Linked DNA regions of Homo sapiens: regions 2, 3 and 4 are each reported to be linked to region 1. Evidence: microRNA targets listed by miRTarBase, many of them from high-throughput screens and not tested one by one. Region 1 holds a microRNA gene; each other region holds the end of a gene's coding sequence.
Evidence for each region. The annotated mature microRNA hsa-miR-6870-5p reads UGGGGGAGAUGGGGGUUGA and lies in region 1 at 2,222-2,240, opposite strand. An mRNA with a match to its seed (bases 2 to 7 or 8) in the 3' UTR can be bound and repressed. Matches are read on the target gene's strand: a 7mer-m8 pairs with bases 2 to 8, a 7mer-A1 pairs with bases 2 to 7 and ends in A, and an 8mer does both.

Region 1 (3,836 bases):
CTCAAGGACAATCTTATAGAAGCTTTAAATGTTGTGCTGCCTAATACAGCAGCCACCGGCCACATGTGGCTATTTACATTTAAATGAACTAAAATGAAATAAAATCAGTTTCTAGTTACACTAGTCACAGTCCACATGGCCTGGGGCTCCCATACCTGACCGTGCAGATACAGAACATCCCCCTCTGTCTGCCGTTGCAGGAAGTTCTGTTGACAGTGTTGTTCTCAGGCATTTGCCTCAGCGTTGCACATCAGCCCACCCCAGAACAGGAATGCTAAATGGATTTCACATTCTCTCCCCTGGGCTACTTGTAGACACGGCTCTCCCACTGGCAGGCCGGAATAGATTGTTTCCACGTGTTGCGGCCCGCTACACAGGCAGGATCATTTCACTATAGAGGTCCTCCTCACCAATACATTACTTCTCAAGTGTAACAAGGGGCAGTGGTAGTAAGTGGGGACAAAAGGAGCAAGTCTGGAGACAGCCAGGTCCCGGGAGAAGGGAGGTACCTTCACAGGGGGTCGTGCGGCAGTGGTCTTTCAGGTGTGAGCAGTTCTTGCCCTCATAGTCCTCGGGGCACTTGCAGAAATAGTCACTGGCACGGTTGTAGCACTGGGCACCGTTCTGGCAGGGATTAGGCTCACAATAATCGATGTCCAGCTGCAAATATCAGGAACAGCGAAAAGGGGGAGGGATCAGAGTAAAACAAAGGTGTCACGATAACTTCTCTGGGGCAGCAGGCACTGGAATCTGACAGTTCCTTCGGTTTCTATTAGGAGACACCCTGTAAGATACATCTCTATGCTGTAGGGACTGCCAATGTCCAGTATTTGAAACAACGGGGCAGAGTGGGAGAGGGAGCACAAGAGGGGGTGGAGGGAACCAAAAAGAACACAAAGACGAAGACACTAAGAAGAAAATAATTCGTCAGTATCTCCTTCCACCAGCATTTGTCTAGCAGAGACTCTCTCATCAATAGGATGTTAATAGATGTTAGGAAATTCCAGACACAAGAGCTGAGGGAAAAGTAAAGGGAAGCGGAGGAGGCAGCGGCTCTGCTCTAAAAACTTGGCCATCTGAGGTTTTGCCACCACTCACCTGACAGAGGTTTCCAGAGAAACCAGTGGGACACAGACACTGGAATCTGTTGATTTCATTCTGACAGTGACCCCCATTCAAACAGGGGTTGCTGGCACATTCATCGATGTCTCTCTCACAGTGATCGCCTGCATAGCCAGGTGGACAGATACAGCGATAACCATTAACCAAATCCTAGAAGAGGAGAAGGGGAGAGAGAGACACATGCTTTTTTTCTATGTATTCCACAAACACAGGGCTTCAGCGGTTTAGCATGACTGTTGCGGTTTAGCTGGTTCACTGAAATAGCCAAATGCTAAACCTCTGAAAGTGGTTAGAGGAATTTCTATGTGCATGCCTTCAAAATGACTCCCACGAGGCTGGGGTAACATAAGCCCTAGCGAAACTTCCAAGAGACTCTTTTTTCACCCAAATTTTTAAATCTCACAGGGACAGAGCTCTCCTAGTGTCGCACAAATCTAAAGATTTGTTGTCAATTGTCAAAGTTTTGATTTAAGCAAAGATTTACATACCCGACAGGAGGCGTCATTCTGACACTGGCCAAGGCAGTCATTAATATCTAAAAAATAAATAAGTCATCATTTTAAAGAGGTAATTTACAGTGAAATTGGGCTTAATTGAAAAGCCTTCTCAGCTCAGGATAGATAAGTTTCAAATCAGATTTCCTGTGTGCTTTCCGTGAGATAAGGTTATTACGCTGGGTGGGGACCCTCCCTAATTCTTCCAGAATGAGGGAGTGAAACTTCACATCATTGTTTCAGCCACATTATCAGAATATGGCTGGTTTTCGCAGCTAATGAGCCTGATAAAGTGTATGTTTTCACTGCTGCCCTGACCACTCCCTCTCAAAAAACCATTCCCACTCTAAGGTTTTCCTTCTACTGCTCAAGTCCTAGGACTGGAGCCCCAGTACGGACCAGCAAGTCGGCTACCCAAGTTTCATGAAAATCAAAATGGAAACAAAGTCACTCACTTATGTCACAATTCTGACCCATCCAGCCGGGAAGACAGTCGCAGTAGTAGCTGGCAATGAGATTCTTACAGGATTTGGCGTTTACACAAGGTTTGGCCTCACATTCATTTGCATCTGAAAGGAGATGGGGATGAGCATGAGAAATGAAGTTCAACCCCCATCTCCCCCACCTTGGAAAAAAAAAGAACAGGCCAGAGTTTGTCTGAGACATGAGACATTTTAATAAGCTAGCTAAATAAAAGATACTAGAGGTTCCCTCTATTTTAAGCATCTGATCCCTCTCCCTAGCTATTATCCAATAAGAACCCTAATTGATAACTTTCCAGCTGCTAGTTAACCAGCCCCCAACAAAACAGCAGAAAGCCACCAGGCATTTCTGTGCAAAACCCAGGCAGCCTAGTTGCTGGGATTTAAATGTGGCAAAAAGAATGCAGACAGCTCATTCCTCATGAGATCATCCCCTTTTGGAACCCAGCTGAACACTCCTCGGACAGACGATTGACATGGTTCAAGGAATCCCACGACTTTCCCACAGGGCCTAAAAGAGCTAGTCCATTTGCATTCAAGTTATTTCTCCCAGGCCTGCTAGACTCTTGATAATAAATTACTTCTTAGCATGATGGAGTGTGAACTCACACTGCCGGCCACACGCTCGTCTTCTGTAATGGCTTTGACAATCAAAGCCAACCTTGGTATAAAAATTACAGTCACAGGGATGTTCTTACCTAACTGGCACGTTTTCCCAGTCCACTGTGGGGGGCACACACACTTAAATCCGTTAACCAGGTCCTGGCAGGTGCCCCCGTGGGAACAGTTATTAGGAGAACAGTCATCAATGTCTGGTCAACAAGAAAAGGAGGGGGTTGACAATTTAATTCAATCCATCTGACAATTAGATCCTTTAACATCACCTCTTACATGAGGGGCTGTCATTGAAGAGCCAGACACCTGCTACAAGGAAAGCTACAGCAGGACAAGTGGGACGGTGACGATAAGGCCGAAGCCTTGATTTTAGCTTTAAATCCCCCACTGCCCCAGTTCATGTAATCCCCAACCTAAGCAGTGGGGGAGAAAGACAGCTGGATACTGACGGAGCATCCGCCCAGGAGGAACACAGGACATCTCTATCTGCCTAATCTTTATTTTTAAAGAAAAGTTTCATCATGGCTCAGAAGTAGCTAAGAAGTCAGGAAAAATAGTTCTTTACAGGTGGAAAACCTTATTCCTCTCATTTGCTTACAGAGTTTGCCCAAAATAGCACACCTAGAGGCTGCATTCTCCACTTCTGCTCTGACCAGAGACAACTCCTAACAATTTATGAAGTATTCACTTTTGTGTCTTTATGACAACCTCGGAGATGGGAATTGCTACTGTGCCATTTAAAGAGGGCCCGGGGAGCTTCTGTGGCCTGCTGGAGTTCCGCAAGTGACAGGTGGGGGCCTAGGACCAGCACAGGCAATCTGACCCCAGAAATCCACATCCATAACCACACCTGGGGTGCTGATGACAGCGGTTCTCAGACCTGGCTGCACTGCAGAATTCCAGAAGTTTATCAAAGACCATGGACTCCCCGATTCTGGAGGGAATCTGGGGGACCCAGAGATTTACACTGTAAAGCAGCCCAGGTGATTCTGATATACAGCCCTGTCTCACAGCCAAAGGAACTCTGCAGGCCAGGTTCTTCTCTGGGGCCCCCTGGCCCTATGACAGAATCCAGTAGTAAGTGACAACCTCCCCTGAAGGCAGCCTCTCCATGGCTGCAAGA
Region 2 (4,640 bases), not on the chromosome of region 1:
TGGGGACTGGCCAAGGGGGTCCCTAGAGCAGCCTGGCGGCCCTTCTGTGTTCTGACCCAACCACTGTTTATTTTGCAGACAGTCTCCATTCTGGAGCAGCGGTTGACACTGACAGAAGACAAGCTGAAGCAGTGTCTGGAGAACCAGCAGCTAATCATGCAGAGAGCAACACCATGATCAGGGGAGCAGGAATCAGGAGCTCGGTGGATTTGCAGGTGGCAGGCCAGGGATTTGTACCATGGGACTTGGGTAAATAAAGGGGACTGAACTCTGTGGGAATCACATCCATACTGGAGCCCTGGATTTTTGCAGTTCTGCCCTCCACCTTGCTATCTGCACCAGGAGGCTCTCCACCTGGCAGCCAGAGGTCCCCAGTGGGCCGGGCTCACACACAAATGATGCTTCAGACCCGAATGAGAGGACCACATTTTGCTTAATGTAAAGGAGCCACTTGAAAATGTCTGCTCCTTCGGGGTCCTGAGATTGTGGCTCCCCCTCTGGAGGAGGTGGCTCCACGATGCCTTGATTTTCACTCATCATTTGGACATGTGACTGGCTTTTCCTACCTCTGCCATGGTGTAGAAATTGATTGCACATTGATTGGATGAGCCGGGGGTTTTCTCTAAATCTGACTAAAGGCCCAAAGTGGGCCCATCTGAGTCAGGTTTGTTGAGAACAAGCCCTCTCAAGTGGGTGGTGGCTTTTCAGTGGCCCTGATTTCTGTTCCACACGTGTTCACTGGAGCCAGGTGACTTCCTCCTTGCGTGAGTGAGGGCACAGGAATCTCAAAATTAAACCTGACTTCATTGCACTTGTTGCAGGAGTGGCTTATGCTGGATGACACTTAATCAATCTTCCCATCCCCAGGGCCCAAACAGAATGAGAATGGTGACTTGGGACGGCCTCTGCCAGGATTGCCTCTGAGGCCAGGACCCCCCTGTTTGCAGCTGTTCAGGGTGTCGGGGAACAAGGGCAGTCAGAGCCCTTGCATGCACCCACCTCCCTCTGGCTGGCCCCCACTGACTGCTTCTGTTGGGACTCAGAGGCCTCAGGCACCCAAGTTTCCATTTGCTCCTGAGGGCTTCCATAGGGTCCTCCCTCTGCCCCTGTGCTGGGGAAGCCAGGACAAATGTTTTCCCTGTGTCTGTGTGTCGCCCGTGCCTTCCGTCTTCAGCTTCTTGGGGCTCAGCCAGCCAAGGAGGTCTTTATCCTCAAACACACCTGCCCTGCCCTGGGGAATGGGAGGTGGTGTTAGATCGTCCCAGGAGCTGTCAGTACCACGTGGTCAGTGGGTTCACAGCCTCTGCAGCCTCCAGGTGGAAGCAGAGCCTGCATGCCTCAGAGCCTGGACTGACTAGAGGGCAGCTGTGTTGAGTCCTGATGACGGGACGCTTTCTCTGGCCTACACTGGGTGGGGAGGGAGCTGCCTGTTGCCAGCTGTGTGACCTCAACATTGTGACCTAACCTCTCTGAATCTTGGGTTCTTATTGTGTGAAGTGGTTGTGATACCCTCCTCTGGTGACAAGGTAAGCAATGCACTGTGCTCAGTGCAGAGCAGGTGCTCAAGAGAAGCCCATCCCCCATCAGTCCCCCAGTGGGACTCCCCATCCCCACCAGTCCCACTGGATCTACAGGGTCTGCTCTCAACACCATCCTCCCCCTGCACTGTCGATGGGAAGAAGCTGCGGGCTCAGGGTGCTCTGGCAGCTGCTGGGACCTGCCGCACTTTTCCCACGTGGCCCTGCCGGTGTGTGGACGAGCCTGGCAGGCCTGCTGGTCCATGCTGGCAGGTAAGTCTCTTGGCTACCTCAGGAGGCTTTGAAGTAGAGTCTGGGCAACTGCAGGTCAGCCTGCTAAGAGGAGGTGCAACTTATGGGGCCAGCCGTGTCGGTTCCCTCCCATGCCAGCCCTCCTGCCACCAGACCAGCACTGGGCTGCCTGTTGTGGCTTCCGGACCTGGGCTTGGACCTACCATGGGTGGAGATTCTGATGATTTGAGCAACCAGCCCAGGGCAAGGTCATCTCCAGAGACAGATGACGGCCCCTCTGGGGGCAGCAGGACATGTGCAGGGTCTCCAAGGCGTTGTGTGGCAGGTCTTGCTCTCAGGCCAGACCGAGGTTGCCATCACCCCTGTCTTCAGTTTACACCAGGATCGAGTTTGGAATCTCTATGAAATCCACCTTTCTCTGCTGGAGGACATGTGGAGTTGCAGGAGGTGGTCTTAGGGGTAGTGGTGTGGTATTTGTCCCTGATTGTTGACTGCCAGTGGAAGCTCCACTGGTTACTAGATGTAAGGGGTCAGGAGGAAGGACTCACTCCCACACACTTCTTGTAGTATGATATCGGCGTGTCCTGGGACAGCCTGACGTGGGCTGTCCAGATAGAGACAGGCCAGAGCCAGCGCCAGCGCCAAGCTTGGATAGGCCCACGCTCAAGCCCCATGGACTGTCAGAGGGCTCTGCTAGAGTGGTCTGGGTGTCCACGCCCACACCCCTCCCTTGATGGAGCCACCAGCCAGACCTGGAATTTGTAGGCAGGATGTTCTTCTTGGAATGCTGCTCTTTAAAACAGCACAGGCCAGGTGCGGTGGCTCACGCCTGTAATCCCAGCACTTTGGGAGGCCGAGGCGGGAGGATCACTTGAGGCCAGGAGTTCAAGACCAGCCTGGCCAACATGGAGAAACCCCGTCTCTACTAAAAATACAAAAATTAGCCGGGCATGGTGGCTCACGCCTGTAATCCCAGCTACTCAGAAGGCTGAGGCAGGAGAATTGCTTGAACCCAGGAGGCGGAGGTTGCAGTGAGCCGAGATCATGCCACTGCACTCCAGCCTGGGGGACAGAGCAAATCTCCGTCTCAAAAACAAACAACAAAAACAAAACAGGACAGAGACTGCCTCCACCAAGCCAGGGGGTCAATGTGTATCACCATGCTGAGGGCAGAGCTGGGGGTGGGGTGGGTGCCAAGGCTCTCACCTGGGGCCTGAGTTCTTCTTGAGTTCCTTTTCTTGCTCATGCGAGGCTTGACTCAGGACCTCACTGCTCTGAGTGAGAATCTGGTGGGAGGGAAACGGGGTCCTAGGCAGCTGTGACTGCTGTGGGCATTGTCCCTCTAGCCTCAGTTCTGTACCCTCACCCCCTCCCCGTGGAGATGCTGCAGGCCCCCTGAGCTACACACCACACTGCCTGGGAGTGTAGGGCCCTCACAGGCAGCAAGGAGTGTGGGGCCTGGGTGGGCTTGAGGTGGCTTGGCGAGGTGTGGGGGCCACATGATGGAGCTTTCTTGCAGAATCTCCCTAAGCGACGCTCTGCCAGCCCTACCCGATGGCTCCCTGTAGCTGGGGCTGCTACTGATCCCCCACTCTTGCTGCCAAGCACAAAAGCAGCCCTTCTGGAAATGCAAATGGCTCGGCTCAGCCGTCATCTCTCCTAATTTTGGATTTGGTAACTGAGCTCTCAGAAACCAAATTGCAGGAATCTCTTTTGTGTTAGGAAGATGAAGTTAGTTTAGCATTTTTGTCAGTAAGTGCATATCAGCAGCAATTCCCCATCGTTTGCCTCCCCAGCGCCTTCATGCCCTAATTTTCCCAATGTGAAATAAAAGAATAGATGTCTGTGATTTAAACTGCAGCCTGCTGCCTACCATTGTCCAGTTTCTGTGGGTTCCTGGGATAAACCTGCACTTCCTGCTGGAGAAGCTGAGAGGTGGCTGAGATGACCAAGGCAGGCAGCTTGCAGGTAGAAGCCATCAAGTCCAGCCCCGGCCTGTGGCAAGGCTTTCCGCCTCTCACCCAAGTCACCACACCCTGGGAGCGCCTGACAGGCTGTGTCGAGGGGTTGCCACAGGCTTGTGGCCACCTAGTCACCCACTTCAGAGACTCAGGTAGCACATGCCAGCCTGCTGTGGGAACTCTGCCATCCTGCCACCCAGCACAGTCCTTGGCCTTCTGTCCTGTGATTTGATTGCCACAGCATCATGACTTCTCAGTGGTGGGTGGGCGGGGGGGTGCTCTGTGGGGCAAGGGCAAAGTGGTGAGGTCAGGAGGCCCCCAACCCATGGCCCAGGTCCAAACCCTCGCTCTCTCCGACTAGTTCTGTGACCTTTTTGGGCCTCTATACAATAGTGCTTGTGTCATTGGGCACTCACTACAGTGGCTGGTGCAAGTTAAGTGCGGTTAGTGTGTGACCATTGGTGTTATCCCACCACTGGCCTGGCGAGTCAGGCCCCTTCCCTGAAACTTGGCCCCATGTGCCAGTGGGGATGGTGGGGGGGCTCGTGGTCCCAGGGTCCCTCTGGCTTTGTAATGTTAGGCAGCTAGAGTTCTCATCTCCTGATCCCATGGCCCCTGCCATGGGTGTCCCCGGTGGTGAGAAGGGATTGGGCCCCTCCCCACCCGAGAAGGCAAGCACTCTAAGGCTATCTCTTCTGCTGTCACTAAGGCCACCTCTGGGGAGAGCACAGGCTTGAGGGTGGGTGTTTGTGATTGCCCCGAATCCTGGAAGTCCAGCCCACTGAATAAGCGAGGGCATGGTGAGTCACACTGGTCCTGTCACCCCAGTGCCCTGTCATTAACCTCATTTCCGAAATGATTTGCTTGAGATGGGCCCCTGATGGCTCCAAATTTAATTGGTGTGTGGTCA
Region 3 (4,640 bases), not on the chromosome of region 1:
CAGGAGAATCGCTTGAACCCAGGAGGTGGAGGTTGCAGTGAGCCGAGATTGCGCCACTGCACTCCAGCCTGGGCGACAGAGTGAGACTCCATCTAAAAAAACAAAACAAACAAATACACCCCTCATTAGTTAAGGATAAAGATGAGGGGGGCCTGTCGCGGTGGCTCACGCCTGTAATCCCAGCACTTTGGGAGGCCAAGGCGGGCAGATCACAAGGTCAAGATATCAAGACCATCCTGGCCAGCATGGTGAAACCCTGTCTCTACTAAAAAAAAAAATACAAAAATTAGCTGGGCATGGTGGCGCACTCCTGTAGTCCCAGCTACTCGGGAGGGTGAGGCAGGAGAATTGCTTGAACCCGGGAGGCAGAGGTTGCAGTGAGCCGAGATCGCGCCACTGCACTCCAGCCTGGCAACAGAGTGAGACTCCGTCTCAAAAAAAAAAAAAAAAAAAAAAGGATAAAGATGAGGGAAAAAAAAATCCACCCTCCAGTTTTTCCCCACTCCCCTGCTTTGTTGGTCCAGGCCTGTTTGCCTTCTCATTCCTCACCCTCTATCTTTTCTTCCATGTCTTTCATCCTTACAGCAAATACTTCCCTGGACAAGAAAGCCAGATGAAACTGATCTACCAGGGCCGCCTGCTACAAGACCCAGCCCGCACACTGCGTTCTCTGAACATTACCGACAACTGTGTGATTCACTGCCACCGCTCACCCCCAGGGTCAGCTGTTCCAGGCCCCTCAGCCTCCTTGGCCCCCTCGGCCACTGAGCCACCCAGCCTTGGTGTCAATGTGGGCAGCCTCATGGTGCCTGTCTTTGTGGTGCTGTTGGGTGTGGTCTGGTACTTCCGAATCAATTACCGCCAATTCTTCACAGCACCTGCCACTGTCTCCCTGGTGGGAGTCACCGTCTTCTTCAGCTTCCTAGTATTTGGGATGTATGGACGATAAGGACATAGGAAGAAAATGAAAGGCATGGTCTTTCTCCTTTACGGCCTCCCCACTTTTCCTGGCCAGAGCTGGGCCCAAGGGCCGGGGAGGGAGGGGTGGAAAGGATGTGATGGAAATCTCCTCCATAGGACACAGGAGGCAAGTATGCGGCCTCCCCTTCTCATCCACAGGAGTACAGATGTCCCTCCCGTGCGAGCACAACTCAGGTAGAAATGAGGATGTCATCTTCCTTCACTTTTAGGGTCCTCTGAAGGAGTTCAAAGCTGCTGGCCAAGCTCAGTGGGGAGCCTGGGCTCTGAGATTCCCTCCCACCTGTGGTTCTGACTCTTCCCAGTGTCCTGCATGTCTGCCCCCAGCACCCAGGGCTGCCTGCAAGGGCAGCTCAGCATGGCCCCAGCACAACTCCGTAGGGAGCCTGGAGTATCCTTCCATTTCTCAGCCAAATACTCATCTTTTGAGACTGAAATCACACTGGCGGGAATGAAGATTGTGCCAGCCTTCTCTTATGGGCACCTAGCCGCCTTCACCTTCTTCCTCTACCCCTTAGCAGGAATAGGGTGTCCTCCCTTCTTTCAAAGCACTTTGCTTGCATTTTATTTTATTTTTTTAAGAGTCCTTCATAGAGCTCAGTCAGGAAGGGGATGGGGCACCAAGCCAAGCCCCCAGCATTGGGAGCGGCCAGGCCACAGCTGCTGCTCCCGTAGTCCTCAGGCTGTAAGCAAGAGACAGCACTGGCCCTTGGCCAGCGTCCTACCCTGCCCAACTCCAAGGACTGGGTATGGATTGCTGGGCCCTAGGCTCTTGCTTCTGGGGCTATTGGAGGGTCAGTGTCTGTGACTGAATAAAGTTCCATTTTGTGGTCCTGCAGCCTCTTTCTGTGACAGAGAATGGCTTTGCGCTGCCCCCAGGAAAATGGTAATGAGAGTAGGTAGGCCGGGGCTACCAACGGGAGATGCAGTTTATTTACACCAGCAGCCATGGGGGCAGAGGGAATACACAGCGTTTACAAAGTTAGCTACCTGTACAGAATGGATTACATATGCAAAAATAAAAATCTCAAGACCACAGGACAGCGTGAGCCCCACCCCCCTCCCCCAATGACCCCAGCATGCGGTAATGCCAGGCGGGTGGCCCCTGGGCATGCGGGGGGGAGTGATGCATGGAAGGAAAAGCCACCGGCCATGGAAATTAGTACAGAACCCCCCCACACACACTCAGACACAGGATACAGGGTGGACGACACCTAGCCGGGGTGGGAAGGATGGGAATTGAAACCCACACAGCCTGCTGTTAGAGGGAGGGGAGTGGGGAGCTCCTAGCCCCTGTTCAACTACATGGTAGGGGGGGCACTCTCTCCCCAGAAGGAAAAGGGTTTGTTCCCTCAGGGTCCCTGCTGGACCAAGCCCATCTCTTACCCAGCCTGGGCAGGGGGCTCTGCCCTGAGGGCGGGCCAAGGAACAATGGGGAAGTTTATGTGGACAAACCAGTTCCCAAGCTACTTCCCACTTCTCCCTCCTCCAACCAGAAGGGGGGAAAAGGGAGAGGCCACAGGGCAAAGAGTGTATTAGGGCCTGAGCTGCAGCTGCCTCTCAGAAGGGAGAGTGGCCCACAGCCTTCCTCCCTTCACCTTCAGCCCACTCCCCAGACTGCATCTGGAAGCGGCTAGAGGCCTGCTGAGATCCTCCTCTCCCTCTGGCCTCCTCTCGGAGGGAGACTACGGAGGGCCAAGAATAGAGAAGCCCAGGCCCCGGGATTTATTCTAACTCCTGCCAAAATCTGTTTGGCTTTTTAAAAAATAATCACAATTTGTGGGTTAAAAACCAATTTGCAACCAGGCATGAGCCACAATCAGAACCACCCCAGCGGGAGAGCGGAGTTCCAGACAGGGCATTGCAGCCCCATCTCTGTTGTTCCCTTAACCCTCTAGGGTCCCTAACCCGATCAGTCCAACCAGTCCTGGGTACTAACTACCCAAATGTGGGATGGCTCCTCTTGGGAAGAGGGTAGGGGACATGTCCAGCAAGTGCCAGAGAACTTGGCTCAGGGTCACCTCCACCCATGTCAGTCAGCTCTGCTCCCAGCCCAGGTCGCGGTCCTCCAGCTTGGCTCCTGGGAGTGGTGGTGCCCGCATGGAGGGGGGACGGTACATCTCTTTAGGATGTAGACCAGGCAGGTGGGCACACTGGCATGACAGTCCCACAGAGGGGCAGTGACACCCCTTCCCCTCCACTGACAACCTGGGGCACAGAGGCCACCCTCTCTTCCCACCCAACTCCTAGCAAAGGGGGAGAGGCACAAGATTAGGATTTTCCTCAGAGCCCCAAACCACAAGTACAGAATAAATAACTTAAAAGCGCTAAGGAAGGGAAACAGGGCACGCTTTGGAGGCAGGAGCGCTGAGAGGAACTGAAGCCAGTCAAGGTGAAGGGGGTGGAAGCAGCAGTTGGGAACCTGGGCTGCCCCGGTAGGGCAGTGGGGCAGGGTGGGCAGGAGGAACACGGGGCCACCCCAGGAGGGTGAGGCTGGGTCCCTTCCTGGGGCAGGGAATGAGGTAAGAAAACATTTCAAATAAAGCAGCACCGTTCCCTCTCACCTTGGGGCCCCACTCCTCACCAGCCCTGGGTCAGGGAGGAGAGGCAGGGGGAGGAATTCTGACACTTCTCCCTCTTCCTACCCTCCCTTTCCCATTCCTTGAAGCTGTAGAGGCTGGAGGCCCTTTCCTGGCACCCAACAAAAGGACAGCTCCTGCTGCCAAGGAGGCCCATGGGGACTGAGGGGAAAGGGCTGCCCCTGTGAGGGGCAGGGAAGGTGGCGGCAGTTCTGGACGCCCACCTCAGCAGACAGCACTCTGTGCCTGCCTACCCCTGGGACTGGGGGCATTTGATAAGATTCTGCACACAGACAGGACATGCCCAGCCTTGCCCCTCAGCTCCAAGCACCGGACCCATTCACATTGCTGAGGGCGGCCGAGGCAGGCCCCCTCCAGGCTCAGCTTCCAACCCACAGCCTCCCGGGTCGCCACATTGCCCCTCAGCAGGGCTTAGTCCAGTTCCTGGGGTGGGGGGCAGGCAGTGCCCTGGCACAGTGCCCAGGTCAGGCCCCTGGCCTAGCTGGACATCCAGTAACTCACAGAATAAATAGGAAAACCGCCTCCCCACCAAACTTATGTCCAAGGCATAATATGTCCAGGTCTGAGTCCTGCACGCCGAGGAGTCGTGCTCCATTGCAGAGGACTTTGACACCCCCCAGGGGCGCATAATCGGATCCTCTGCCTGCCTGGCCCACCAAGCTTCCCAAGCCCCAACCCCCAGCAGCCGTCCATTTGCCAGGCTATGCCACCTGGGTGGGGGTCAGGAGAGAGGGCTCTGCTCAGCCAAAGGCTATCCCTTGCACCCAAGTCAGTTGATGTCATCATAGATGCTGGGCGTCGGGGGTGCCGGTGGCTTTGGCTTCTTCTTCTTGTTGGAACCTAGGCCGGAGGCAGTCCCTACCAGGCTCAGATGGGATTTCTTTTTCTTGGTTTTCCGTGACTCAGAGCTGTTGGTACCTGTAGAGAAAGAGACACAAGGGATGAGAGTATGGTTATGGCAGGAGAGGTGGCACCCCCATGGCTTTGGGCACAGAGCCCCTAGGGCCCAACTGCATCACGTACCTAGACCCCATCCCTGATTTTCACTCGTCTTGGAGGAGC
Region 4 (4,640 bases), not on the chromosome of region 1:
AGCCGGCGACATGACTGGGCTGGCATTCGAAAGATCTGGGTTCTCATCCTCCCTCTGCTCCTTGCAGGCCACGTGCCCGTAGAAAAGATACTCATCCACTGTGGGTTTTGGTGTCGCCGTCACCCCACTGCCTCACTGGATTGTGAGGATCATATGCGACAATGTATTTGAAAACGACTAGAACATTATCGGAGGAAGGTGGACTCTGAAGTAGTCGCTGTAGACTATGGATGTAGAACAAGGGTTTGGAGCCCTTCGGACATGGTTCTAACGCGGCCTGACTTCTTGCTGGCTACATGACCTTGGACTACATAATCACGCCTCTTAAATGGGAGGTGATGACAGCTATCCTTGAGGACCTTAGAGAGAACTGATTTCTTAGTACCCAGCCTCACAAATAGTAAGCTCTTGGTAAAATGGTTTTTTCCTTTTGGGTGGGAGGAAGAGGGTGCTCGGATGACCAGCAAGAACCCTGGCTAGAAATCTTTGGGCCCTGAACATTCTAATGACAGTGCACATAATTTCTGTGCCTGTATGTGCATTTTTCTGGGGAGTGGATCCATAACCCCCAAAAGGTTAATGGAAGAATTACCTTGTCTAGGGGATAGGTTTGGAATAAAATGAGTGCAATAGTTTGGGAAAATTAATTGGTTCCCTAGTTGGTTCACAATGGTGCTAGCTACTTTGGGGAATATAAAAGGTTATTAGTCCTACCTGAGAATGTACAATCTGTAGGGACGAGGATCTGGATCAATATTGGTGACTAATTAGGAAATGAAGAAAGAGAAGAGCCCAAAGTGACTCCGTGGTTGATTTAAAGAATGGTTTTGTCAGGTGTCAAAAAGTGAGAAGTTAATAAACAAGAGTTAGGCCTATCTGCAGACCCCAATGGTTACTATTTTTCTTTCCTTTTAGGTGCATCACTTCATGGAGTTATGTTGGGATAAATGTGTGGAGAAGCCAGGGAATCGCCTAGACTCTCGCACTGAAAATTGTCTCTCCAGCTGTGTAGACCGCTTCATTGACACCACTCTTGCCATCACCAGTCGGTTTGCCCAGATTGTACAGAAAGGAGGGCAGTAGGCCATCCCCCAGGAGAATGACAGAAGCAAAGGACTTGTTACTAAGCAGATTTAAGGGTCAGTGGGGGAAGGCTATCAACCCATTGTCAGATCAGCATCAGGCTGTTATCAAGTCTGTTGGTGCTAAAAAGTAAAAGATGAAATGTTCAAAGAGTGAAATTTATTTATTTGGAATTCAGAAATTCCAGGTTGTATGACATCAGTTACTCAATAAGTGTGAATTCTCCAACTCTTCTTTTAATCCCATTTTAGAATTTAATATAGAGATCTCTGATTGGCAGGAACACTAGAAATAAATGTTCCATGGCCAGTAGTGCAAATGGGGGATTGTAGGTTTTGAAAAACCACCCTAAGCCATATTAAGGGGGTTGGAAGAACCATCGAAGCCTAAGGCATAGAAGAAAATTTGGGGTTAAGAAAGATGAAGAACAAAAAACAGCTTTATTGCTTATACATGACCAAGAAAAGGAAAACATGGCAAAAAAAAAAAAAAAAAGGCAAGATGTGTATTCCTTGCGAAAGAACAAGCCTGCTAACTTGGGAGGAAGGGAAGGTCAGGACCCAAATAGAGCCAATTTCCTGGAGATGGCCTGTTCTACTGGCACATTTTCCTGAGTCTGTGCTTAAAACCTTTCAGGTACTTTCAGGGCACAGAAACAATGCATGCTAAAAAATATATGGCCAAAGCTCCTTCCAACAAAGATTTAACTTGCTCCAGGAACAAAATAATTGCTTTAGGTTAAGAGGTAGTAATTAGAGACTATTCTTCTCCCTTTAGACCCCCACTAATCCCAAAAATAAAAATACACACCATGGAACACTGACAATTGAGTACCAAAGTATTAAAATTTAAAATAAATATCCCAAAAGGTAGCACCTGCTCATAGTTAAGGGATAGGGCACCTCTGTCCAACCATGTATTTTAAGACCAAGCACTTTATTAGAAATCTGTCCCGTAAAGAGAACAAATTTAGCAGTTAGAACTAAAAATACCAACTCATGGAATGTCATCATAGTTGTATCTACTGCTGGTGTCTTATACTGTCATGCTACTGTGAAGTAATTCCGTATTACACATCAGGAAAGTAAGGCCAGGAAGGTGAACTTACCTGCTCTGGGCCTCCTCATAACCAATGAGTGGCAGAACCAAGACCGAAAGTCTGAGTTTTCAAGCTTTTTACTCAGCCCATTAAGTGACAACCAGGAAAAAATAATACGTCACTTGATCTTTCTTCCCACAGTGAAAAAATGCACTTGCGTTCTGCCAGCCTTCTTTCAGTGATATGTTGGTTTCTTAAGAATTAACATACTAAGGATCACAGTATAGCAAAGGGAATTAATGTGGTCTCTGCTTGGTGCTTTAATCCAAAGGCAGACTGGGAAGAAGTGGATATGTCCCTGAGAAGCCTGTTTCATTTTGGAAATAATTCAACTTAGTTTCAGGGAAAACCTAAACTTCATGAACAGATTTAGAAATGAACAAGACAACATTTAAATGGCAGTTGCTGCCCTGAATCCAGAGTACCATTAGACAACATGATTATTTCCTAATTCTTCCCCATTTGGTACAGGATTATCTATGACAATTGAAGAAATAATTTGAACACAAGTCCATTTAGGCAAATATACAGCAATGGAACTAGAAAACCATTTACTATCCAATTACCATGTTTAGGCATATACTAAGTATAGCTATAGGCCCCATCCAGCAGGGAAATTTGCAAAAACTCTAGTCCCTTCTAATAAGTTGTCTATGGATGTTATCATGAAGGGAAAAGGTTTGTTCTTAGGCCCATGTCCTGATTAAGTAAACCGGACCACACCTGTGGGGTCAAAATATAGAAGGATCAAAGCACCAAGGCTAAAGACAAGTTAGTTGTGACACCTGCTATATAAACAGAGAGCAATACAGTGTTGCCTTGTCATACCATCCTACATGGCATTAGTTCCAATCCACCTCTTGATCCCAGCCCTTGACTTCCCCAAATTCAATATTCCGATTGGTGTACCCAGGTCACTATTGGATCCAGCTTTCTGGGTCCTTTAATTTGCTGTATATGCACTCTACACTAAACGTAATTAATTGCAAAAAAAAATAATCTCTTCAAGAAACCTTCATAACAAAATACCAGATTCCCTTTTAACAAGAAAAGGGGATCAAGCTTAACGCCAAAATAGAAGACAAGACGTCTGTCAGAACATACAGATGGCACAAGACAGCTCTGACCTCAGGCCCCGTGCTGAACAAGAGTCACTGGCAAAACCACAAGGAGTAAGAACTGTAAATATCCACAGTCATGTGGAAAACAAAAGTGTTTCCCATTTAGTCATCCTCTGAGCTCTCAGCAGACCTTTCATCTGTAGCTACTTTCCAATTTGTGCGTTTGTTTGTCCTCTCCTGTATTTCATTGTTGGCTACAGAGGTATGGGCTTTTTTCTCTCTCTTTTTCCTTTTGGTTTTCTTAGTGTCTCTTTCCTCACTTTCCTCAGAACTGCTGGATGCTGAATCATCTGAATGTGAAGTGTTACTTTCTGCCTCTAAGAATAAAGCAGGTTTTTTGAGAGACTTTTTCCTGGATTTTTTCTTGCGTTTATGTGGTTGTTTCCCTTTCCTTGTACCAGAAGCCCCAGTTTCTTCTGAGAACTCACTCGAGGAATCTGCTGTTATATCTGTGGCTTCCTTTTTGCTTTTCTTCTGTTTTTTGTGTGACCTTTTTTTCTGCTTTTTTTTGTGGGATTTCTTTGACTTCTTGTGTTTGCGGGATTCATGGGTAGATGACTTTACCTGGGGAGATGTTTTCTTCCCGTTGGTAATATCTTGCTGATCACTACTAATAAGAAAAGTTAAAAAATAGAAGCTTTTATGTAAAAAAAAAGCGTATTATTTTAATATTTTGCATTCTAGATTAAAAAATTGAGGTTAACATCTGAATTTTAAATAAGCACTTTAATGTATACTTTAACACTTTAATATTCTCATTGAGTTTTTGTTTCCTCATCTTTAAAATGAAGGTAAAAATTCTAAGCTGCCATACTGAGTTACTGTATGGAATACTATATATAAAAACCAAAATGCTTACAGACATGCCAAACATCAACCAGAGAATGGGAAAACAGGGATCACCTCCTAACTAAATCACCTATTGTTTCTCTAGCTACATTTTTGATGGCAAGTATATTCTTCGTAAAAGTTAAGAAATCAATTTATAATACAGATTTTGTACCATCTTAGTTTCTTTCAGTAAGCCTATTTTCCTTACCTGTCTGTTTCAAATTCTTCAGGGTATAACTCTTTATAACCACTGTGACCCCATCTGTAATATGACACATCACATGTATTGTTAAAGCAATGCATACATTTTTGGAAATTAAAGCAACATTAGAAAGACTTTGGAGTACATGCATACACAAACATAAACACAAAGTAGAGATATGGTAGAACCAAGCCCCCATTATAGCTCAGTAACAGCTACATTTCCTGTACTGTACACTATCACTTCAGACATACAAGATTATTTTGTCCATTTGTAAGAGAACTTGCCATTGCTTTCCTTAAGA

Region 2: miRTarBase lists POC1A as a target of hsa-miR-6870-5p. Seed matches in the 3' UTR shown: 7mer-m8 at 490-496.
Region 3: miRTarBase lists ATXN7L3 as a target of hsa-miR-6870-5p. Seed matches in the 3' UTR shown: 7mer-m8 at 3,589-3,595, 7mer-m8 at 3,233-3,239 and 7mer-m8 at 2,096-2,102.
Region 4: the mRNA of NKAPD1 is a reported target of hsa-miR-6870-5p. Seed matches in the 3' UTR shown: 7mer-A1 at 1,403-1,409.

What each region holds. Positions count from the first base shown.
Region 1 is chr20:10,647,451-10,651,286 of GRCh38, forward strand. It overlaps MIR6870 (microRNA 6870), which reads right to left and starts at 2,245; the gene lies at 2,186-2,245. It overlaps JAG1 (jagged canonical Notch ligand 1), which reads right to left. Exons shown (of 26, transcript NM_000214.3): 9 at 2,797-2,910; 10 at 2,072-2,185; 11 at 1,611-1,657; 12 at 1,099-1,272; 13 at 510-660. RefSeq lists silencers at 217-266, 3,731-3,836.
Region 2 is chr3:52,071,424-52,076,063 of GRCh38, reverse strand. It overlaps POC1A (POC1 centriolar protein A), which reads left to right. Exons shown (of 11, transcript NM_015426.5): 11 at 79-838. The coding sequence ends at 177. Among named protein-coding and RNA genes, the nearest start is that of LINC00696, 8.6 kb to the right of the region's middle.
Region 3 is chr17:44,189,916-44,194,555 of GRCh38, forward strand. ATXN7L3 (ataxin 7 like 3) reads right to left here. Exons shown (of 13, transcript NM_001382309.1): 12 at 4,602-4,640; 13 at 1,890-4,496. The coding sequence ends at 4,348. It overlaps TMUB2 (transmembrane and ubiquitin like domain containing 2), which reads left to right. Exons shown (of 4, transcript NM_001076674.3): 4 at 586-2,014. The coding sequence ends at 949. Among named protein-coding and RNA genes, the nearest start is that of TMUB2, 5.3 kb to the left of the region's middle.
Region 4 is chr11:112,081,738-112,086,377 of GRCh38, reverse strand. NKAPD1 (NKAP domain containing 1) reads right to left here. Exons shown (of 6, transcript NM_018195.4): 5 at 4,343-4,396; 6 at 1,228-3,913. The coding sequence ends at 3,406. It overlaps TIMM8B (translocase of inner mitochondrial membrane 8 homolog B), which reads left to right. Exons shown (of 2, transcript NM_012459.4): 2 at 916-1,578. The coding sequence ends at 1,083. Among named protein-coding and RNA genes, the nearest start is that of TIMM8B, 2.7 kb to the left of the region's middle. RefSeq lists an enhancer at 1-67.